3 separate regions of the Homo sapiens genome follow, and all the other regions are linked to region 3. Evidence: fine-mapped expression QTL. A gene starts in region 3. Each other region holds a variant in brackets. All regions are shown on one strand. Distances are from middle to middle. Region 1 overlaps TPTEP2-CSNK1E (TPTEP2-CSNK1E readthrough). Region 2 overlaps TPTEP2-CSNK1E (TPTEP2-CSNK1E readthrough). Region 3 holds the start of CSNK1E (casein kinase 1 epsilon).

Region 1 (2,756 bases), 28 kb before region 3:
AAAAAAAAAGAAAGAAACAGGCATCATCACCTCCACATTACAGAGGAGGAAACTGAGATGTGCCCGAAGCCCCCAGGATGCCAATCCTGTGCTCCCAACCCTCCACGCCTGCACCACCTCCAGCCTAGTAGCTGGCACCCTGGTGCCCACACAAAAGCCCAGTTAGCAAGTGTTTTTTGTGGCATGAATGAAAATGACTCACCAGGTGCCTGTTTGCCCCCTCTGGTAGGGGCAAAATTTCCTTGTGATTATTTGGTGTACTTAAACTGTATGGTTGACGCATTAATGTCACTTCCTTAGAGGCTGTCAGTCACTGCCCACTCCCAAACATTAGCTCTCTAAGAAAGGAATGCAGGAAGAAGCATGATGGGTAGAAATGGGGCAGAGCAGCAGGGGCGGGAGGGATTCTCAGATTATAGCTTTTTAGACAGCTTGACTTTCGTGTATGTAAACACCTTCATATCCAAAAAATAAACCAAAAAAGAGGAGGGGGAGAAGCATTAGCTTATTATTAAAATTGATTAAATAGGGTGGGCACAATGGCTCATGCCTGTAAATCCAGCACTTTCGGAGACTGAGGTGGGAGGATTGCTTGAGCCCAGGAGTTCAAGACCAGCCTGGGCAACACAGTGAGATCTAATCTCTACAAAAAATACAAAAGTTAGCCAGGCATGGTGGCACGCACCTGTGGTCCCAGCTGTTAGGGAGGCTGAGGCAGGAGGATCCCTTGAGCCTGGGAAGTTGAGGCTGCAGTGAGCCATGACTTCACCACTGCAGTCCAGCCTGGGTGACAGAGCAAGATCCTGTCTCAAAAACAAAACAAAACAAAAAAAAAAACAAAACTATACTTTTCACTGTAAAAGACAAAGACCAGCTCCTTATTATTTTCTCTCAGGGCCTCTAGTTGGTAACTTCCACTCGCTGTCTGGTGTCAGGTTGTCCATCCCAGAAGGTCCTAAAGTCCAGGGAGGCAGGGGAACTCTCTGCTGCATTCCCCCAGCACCTCATTCAACCAAGTGCGGGTGAACAAAATGGCTCTTCGCAGGCTGACCAATTGACCACTGACTCCTGGCTGCCACCCAGCCCCAAGGCCCAGGCTCTGCTTAGCACCTGCCATTCCAGGGCCTACTGGCATTTCCTGGCTTTGGTAACACACCTGATACCTGATGCCTGTAAAGGGGACCCACCTTTACTTGGGCCTCACACAGCAGGAAACCCTCCACCAGGCCGTGAGCCTGTGGGTCACTGGGTCTTGACGGCCAGCACTGGAAGGCGCCTTGACCTATGTCCAGGATTTCAAAACGCCCGAGGGGAACCTCCCAGGGCCCTCCATCCGCTTCCCAGGCAGACCTA[T/A]CAGCCAGACAGCTTCCGTCTTGCCTCTGGGTTGAGACTGTGGCAATAATGGCTCTTCGGTTGACGAAAGGAAGTAAACTGTGTTGGGTAAATGCAGATGGACAGATTCTTTTCCAAGCTGGTGAGACCAAGGCAGGCGAGGCTGAGCGCTGCCCTTTTATCAAGGCTTGACTGAAGGACCTCATCCAGAGTCACTATCAGAGCTCGCTCCAGCACTCTCCTTCATGGAGCCCCAGGGTCAGCAGTGGAGAGGGTCAGAGCACCCCCACAACCCCCACAGCGAGATGACCTCGGCTCGTCTTGCCTCTGCCACCAGAGCTGTGACTGTGGGCAAGATATTTTACAGCAGGACCAGTTTCTTGTCCGAAGGCAGGGCTATTAACAGGACCTAACTCAGGATACTTGTGTGGATAAAATCATGTGTGAAGAGCTTTTAGGGCCTTGCTTCTCAAAGAGGGGCCCCAGGCCATCAGCACACCTGGAGTGTGCAGGGGGAAGCTCTCAGCCCCACCCCAGCCCTCTTTACAAGACCCCCGCGTGGCACCTGTGGCGTGGCACCTGTGTGCACTCGTGTTTTCAAAGCCCCCGGACATCCCAACCACAGCCCAAGTGTTCTGAAAGTGGCCCCAGCCACACCTGCCTTCAGGGCGAGGGCTTGTTCCTCACTGACTCCTGCTGCTCCCAGCAAGACCCACTTCCGGGTCTGCAGGGAGAGGCCCTAAGGGCACAGAGGTGGACAAAGGGCTGCCTGCATCACTTTATCTTTTCTACTTTATTACTTCAAATTAACAACCACGATAAAGCTCAAAAAAGTCCAATATTTACACAGGAAAAAAGTACAAAATTCCCCCCAAAGTTCTTCAGTTTTTTTTTTTTCAGTTTTTTAAATTACAAAGTAATAAAAAGCTTTGCTCTTTAATTAAAAAAAAAAAGGAAAAAGGGGAAACAGAGGTAAATAAATTAGGAAAACACACACACGGAGAAAACAAACAAAAATAAAATAAAATAAAAACAAAAAGGTGTTAACTAGGAAGGATGGGTTAATCCAAAACCCAGCCCTGACTCCAGGCTCCTCCTCAGAAAGGTGGAACCAGGGAGAGGGGGGACCCCAGGTGACTGTCAGGACCAGGGAAGTAATTTATAACTCAGAGCCAGATGCCTTCTGGAAGCAGTCTCCATGGATTCTGCCCTAAAACCAGGAATGGAAGATGGAGCTGCCACCGGCTGATGACGGGCTAGGGGGGGACCGGTGGCAGCGAGGACCCTCTGAGCTCTGAGGGATGCGGAGGTCACCGCCCACCCCCATGTCCTTGTTAGTAGACACAGGAGAACGGGAATTCGGGCTGGCAGGCGGGGCGGGCCGTGGCACCTGCTGTCTTGGGAAACACAGGTCAATACATCCA
Region 2 (2,756 bases), 40 kb after region 3:
CCACATTTTATTTTTTCTTAGGCAAGAAGAAACATCAGAAGCAGCTGAGGGACCAGGAAGCGGGTCCGTTAAGGCTAAGGAGACATTCTGCCGGCCGGCTTTTAAAAATGTTTCCTATGGGCCTGGCGCGGTGGCTCACACCTGTCATCCCAGCACTTTGGGAGGCAGAGGCGGGCGGATCACTAGGTTAAGAGATTGAGAACATCCTGACCAACATGGTGAAACCCCGTCTCTACTAAAAATACAAAAATTAGCCGGGCGTGGTGATGCATGCCTGTAGTCCCAGCTACTCGGGAGGCTGAGGCAGGAGAATCGCTTGAACCTGGGACTCAGAGGTTGCAGTGAGCTGAGATCATACCACTGCACTCCAGCCTGGGCGACTGAGCTGCACTCTGTCTCAAAAAAAAAAAAAAAAAAAAAAAGTTCCCTATGGAGTCATCTGCCTTATTAACAATGGTTTTTGTCTTAGATGACTCCCTGACCTCATCTTCATGTTGTATACCTGCATTTTCACTGCAAACCTGTCACAGAAGGTCGGGTGTGGAATTTTCCACTTTTGGCATCATGTTGGCACTCAAAAAATTTCACATTTTGGAGCATTTCAGAATTTTTGGATTAAGGGTGCTCAGCCTGTAGTCAGATATAGTTGCATAGAGTGAAGGCATTATCCAAATAGATTTTTCAGTGATTGTGCTTTTTAAAAAGCAGACACATTTACATAACAATGAAGAAGTGGAAATCCTTTGCATCTTTAACCAGTCTCTTACTCTCATTCTCCTTCCCTCTTTTATAATCTTCCGTTTCAACTTAGGAAACTTATATTTCTCTATGCCAACTTTGTGAAACCATGCAGAATGGCTGTATCCAAAATTGCATGACAACAAAAAATTGTGAAAATGTCTGTCAAATCCAGTTGTTTAATTCTTTTAAAACTATGAGTATGAAATTATTGTTATTCTACCACTTACTGTTTTGAAAAGAGTTCAAGGTTTTAGCTAGGTTATTTAATTGATGTTAAATCTGAGGGAGTTCCAAAAATGTGAAGAAAAAAAGAACACATAATTGTCCGAAGATTTAAGATCCTGAAATGTGATTCAGTAAACATAGTCATCTGTAGTTTCAACTTGGAAATTAAAAATGAGAAGATAACTCTTATCCTGTTTTGAGGAAAAAAAAAAGCCTATATTTAAAGGTTAATCTACATGTTCACAGAGTAATTAAGATTGTATTAAAATGTCTTTGTTTCTATTTAAAGTTTGTTATTCTATAACACAGTAGTTGCTTTTTTCTA[T/C]AAGATCTTCAAGGCTGAGGACCCAGGCTCATGCCTGTAATCCCAGCACTTTGGGAGGCCAAGGCGGGCAGATCACTTGAGGTCAGGAGTTCAAGACCAGCCTGGCCGACACAGTGAAACCCCATCTCTACTAAAAATACAAAAAATTAGCTGGGCGTGGTGGTTCATGCCTGTAATCCCAGATACTTGGGAGGCTGAGGCAGGAGAATCACTTGAACCTGGTAGCTGGAGGTTGCAGTGAGCCGAGATTGTGCCATTACACTCCAGCCTGGGCTACAGGAGCAAAACTCAGTCTCAAAAGAAAAAAAAACCTTCAAGATAACAGTTTAATTTTAAAACAGTTGTTTAATGAAAAAAGGAAGGTTAGGGACTAGAGAATTTTTGAAACAATAATTATGATAGGAATATCAGTAACAAAATGTTTCTGAAGCTATAAATGTAAGCTAAAAATATAAACATCATTGACTAAATCCAGTCTTTGATTAGAACTAGTTTTTTCTCTATTAAGGCTCTTATTTTCTACTAGCACTAACTTGTACTCAACCCTTAGTACATATTCTCTCACTTTTTAGTAACCATTGTTATGATAAATTGAAAAGCCATTCAAATAAAATTTTGTGTGAATTAATCTGTTTGCCAGAGTGAAAAGAGTAGTAACAATAGGTAAACAGAACACTTGTGGCTCTAAGTCAGGGACTTAAAGTGGTGCGCTTAGCGGATAACGCTTCTGGTCACCTACAGTTTGTTTCTGAAAACTGAAAGGAGTTTCAGTGGTGATAGCTGGGATCACAGGCGACCGCCACCATGACCGACGAATTTTTTGTATTTTTAGTAGAGACGCGGTTTCACCATATTGGCCAGGCTGGTCTTGAACTCCTGACCTCCAGTAAACCACCCGCCTCTGCCTCCCAAAGTGCTGGGATTATAGGAGTGAGACACCACTTCCAGCCTACATGTGTCTTTATGGGAGAAGAGTGTTTCCTGTAGGCAACAGAGCAATGGGTCTTTTTATTTTATTTTATTTATTTATTTATTTATTTATTTTTGAGCTGGAGTCTTGCTCTGTCACCAGACTGGAGTGCAGTGGCACCATCTCGGCTCACTGCAACCTCTGCCTCCCGGGTTCAAGTGATTCTCCTGCCTCAGCCTCCTGAGTAGCTGGGACTACAGGTGCGCACCACCACACCCTGCTAATTTTTGTATTTTTAGTAGAGACAGGGTTTCACCATGTTTGCCAGGATGGTCTCTAGCTCTTGACCTCATGATCTGCCTGCCTTGGCCTCCCAAACTGCTGGGATTACAGGCGTGAGCCACCACACCTGGATGGGTCTTGTTCTTTCATCCATTCATCCACTCTATCTTTTGATTGAAAAGTTTAGTCTACTGACACTCAATGTTATTATTGATAAGTAAGGACTTACTCCTGCCATTTTGTTATTTGTTTTCTGGTTGTTTTGGGGTCTTC
Region 3 (2,756 bases):
TGAGCCGGGGCCCTTGTCCCTCGGACGATTAAAATAAAAATTGAAGGGACATCATAGAAACGAAGGCAAAGGAGACCCAAACACAGGCATTGCTTGGAAGCAACTTGAGACACTTGTGTCCCCTTCTCCTCTCTCCAAATCCTTCTCCAGGAAGGAGGCTATGCCAGGAAGAAAATATGCAAGAAAACTAAGGGAAAAGTTGGGGAGGGGGCTCACCCCACTTCGAGTTAGGGTATTAACAAGAGCTTGGGAATCCTCTAACGACACCCAGACACTGTTTTGCGTTCCTTAGAGACTTGCAAGACATCAATCTCTCACACAAAAATGGGAGAATCCGATCCGACAAATAACCCCCACCCCTTTCTTTCTCTCCACAAAGAAAAACAAATCAGTGGCCTGGTGACCACACACCTCTTCACCTTAGGACCCCCAAACGCCCGTCATCCAACGAGCGGGCGCAGCCTTGCGAACCCCCAGGTCCGGGCGCCGGGGCCGGGAGAGCAGGGGGCGCCGGTGATTGTCCGATGAAACGCTACGCGGGCCCGAATCAACAGTATCCGGCGCCCAGCACCCCAAGCCCCCTCCCTCAGCGTCCCCAAATCACAGCCGGGGTGGCCGCCTGGCCGGCCGGGGCCTCGGAGGGCCCAGCGGGGGGAAGCGGAGGCAGGCCGGCCGGGGGGCCTCCCCCGCGAGCCTGCAAAATAACAGGCCCCCTCCTCCTCGTCCCCAGCCGCGCCTTTGTCCTCGCCGGGCCGAGCGGGCGGCGCCCGGGCTGCCCCCCCTACACCCCAGCGCGAACGCGCGTGTGTCTGCCCTCCCTTCCCTCCCTCTCCAGCAAAAACAAAGAGGCTGAGGGAGCCCGATTCCCCCCAGGTTTGCACCCTTCCGCGGGCCCGCGGCCCCCCGATATTTACCCCGCCGGGAAGGCGCCGATGCCGGGCCACTGCTCGGGGGGCTGCCGCGGGCGGGGGCGGCCCGCCGGGGCGGATGCCGGAGGATTCGCGGAGCCGCCCGGCGCGCCAGCCTCTCCCGGCCCAGCCGCCGCCGCCGCCGCCGCCGCCGCGCTCCGCTCGGCCCCGGCCGGGCTCTGGCTCTGGGCTCTCGCCGCCGCCGCCGCCGCCGCCGCCGCCTCCCTCCTCCCGGCCTCCTGCCCGCCCGCCCGCCCCCGCCGCCGGCTCGCGCGCTCTCGCACCGCGCGCGCCCGCCGGCTCCCATTGAGCCCCGGGCCCGCCCGCTGATGTCATCCCCGGCCCGCCGCCGCCGCCCCGGAGGATTTAAAGGGCCCGCGCCCTCCGCGCTGGGGGCCGCAGCTGCGAGACGCAGTTCCCCAGCCTCAGTGCAGGCGCGCGGGCTTACGCGTGGGGGTGGGGGAGCACACAGATACTGACACCCTAATGCAGTCCAGGGCACAGGTGGAAAAGACGGGGTGCGGGGGGGACAGAGGGAAGAGGAGGGCGCACAAAAAGCGGAGGTGAGGGGATGGGAGGGGAGGGTCTAGACCCAAAGTCTCCTCTCCCCGCCTGCCAGGATCTCTCTCCTCTCCAGGCAGAGCACTGGGCCCCTGCGAAAACAGGCGGCTATTCACGACACTGCAAAAGATGTTAGACTGCTGGAGGCTCAGTCCGCCTCCAGGTTCCGAGTGCCGCAGAGAACACAGGCCAGGTTGATTCAGGGCAAGAGATTTGAGGAGACAGCTAGGGATGTCGACACAAGGCCCAGAAAGGTAGCCTGGGCTCATACATTCTCCTCCCGTGGAAAAACGAAGGGCAAAGACCTCTTCTTCTTTTCCCTGAAGCTCAAACTGTGATGGGCACAGAGAGGACCCCTCAGATCCCAACCTCATTCTCCCCTGTTGAAGGAGGGGTGCCACAAGTACCAAAGCACCGACACTTGAGTCTGGGCTCCGAGTGGTGCACGTTTAGCCAAGCCACCTCCCAGCTCTGAGCTTGGGTTTCCTTAAACAGCAAATGGGAGGAAGGACCCTGTCCTCCCCAGGTCACAGAATTAATAAAAGCTTCTACCGGCATGCAGAGCCGCGATGAAAGGTTGCAGAACAAAGTCATTAAAGTGATGATATTTACACTGAGCCATGCAAAGCTTCCAATTATGACACACCTATATTCACACAGTTGTGACTGTGGACACGCAAAATGCCTGAGGCCCTGCGTCCAATCCCGGAAGCACAGTTCCTGGGAGGAGTCACTTCTATAATAGCCGTATCTTCCCTCCTCGAGGCTGAGGGACTGAGTCACACACGTGTCCAAACGGGCAGGAGCCCCACAGACTAAGTCCTTTCGCCGGCCAGGAAACTGGCCCAGAGAGGGGAAGGGCTTTGCCCAGGACCACAAAGCCCAACAGGACAGCTCTGTTCTCCCAGCGATCACCAGGAAACTGGGTCTATCTAGAGCCCATTTCCAAGAGCAGGAGAGTGAGAAGCCTCCTCCCAGGAGGGCCTGCCTTCAGTGACACCTTTGCCAGAGCAGGGGGTCACCAGCCAGGTGGTGGGCTTTACTTGGCCTGCGCGGTGCTTTCTGTTGTTGTTTTGTTAATTAATCCCCAAAGTTTTTTTTTTTTTTTTTGCTTTTTGTTTTTGTTGGTTTTGAGATAGAGTCTCGCTGTGTGGCTCAGGCTGGAGTGCAGTGGCTCAATATCGGCTCACTGCAACCTCTGCCTCCTGGGTTCAAGTGATTCTCCAGCCTCAGCCTCCCTCCTGAATAGCTGGAATTACAGATGTGCACCACCACACCTGGCTAATT

What was found. PIP is the estimated chance that this variant, and not a neighbour inherited with it, causes the effect. A credible set is the group of variants that fine-mapping cannot tell apart.
Region 1: its variant is the best candidate, but not a certain one, in a credible set for the expression of CSNK1E in whole blood (INTERVAL, PIP 0.83).
Region 2: its variant is the best candidate, but not a certain one, in a credible set for the expression of CSNK1E in whole blood (INTERVAL, PIP 0.72).

What each region holds. Positions count from the first base shown.
Region 1 is chr22:38,288,585-38,291,340 of GRCh38, forward strand. It overlaps TPTEP2-CSNK1E (TPTEP2-CSNK1E readthrough), which reads right to left. Exons shown (of 15, transcript NM_001289912.2): 15 at 2,107-2,756. CSNK1E (casein kinase 1 epsilon) reads right to left here. Exons shown (of 11, transcript NM_152221.3): 11 at 2,107-2,756. Among named protein-coding and RNA genes, the nearest start is that of TMEM184B, 17 kb to the left of the region's middle. RefSeq lists enhancers at 671-1,380, 1,381-2,088. The variant T/A (reference allele first, on the strand shown) is at 1,354.
Region 2 is chr22:38,356,138-38,358,893 of GRCh38, forward strand. All of the region lies in intron 4 of TPTEP2-CSNK1E (TPTEP2-CSNK1E readthrough), which reads right to left. It also overlaps the pseudogene TPTEP2. Among named protein-coding and RNA genes, the nearest start is that of CSNK1E, 40 kb to the left of the region's middle. The variant T/C (reference allele first, on the strand shown) is at 1,292.
Region 3 is chr22:38,316,246-38,319,001 of GRCh38, forward strand. It overlaps CSNK1E (casein kinase 1 epsilon), which reads right to left and starts at 1,188. Exons shown (of 11, transcript NM_152221.3): 1 at 915-1,188. All of the region lies in intron 5 of TPTEP2-CSNK1E (TPTEP2-CSNK1E readthrough), which reads right to left. RefSeq lists a silencer at 516-905 and an enhancer at 2,628-2,756.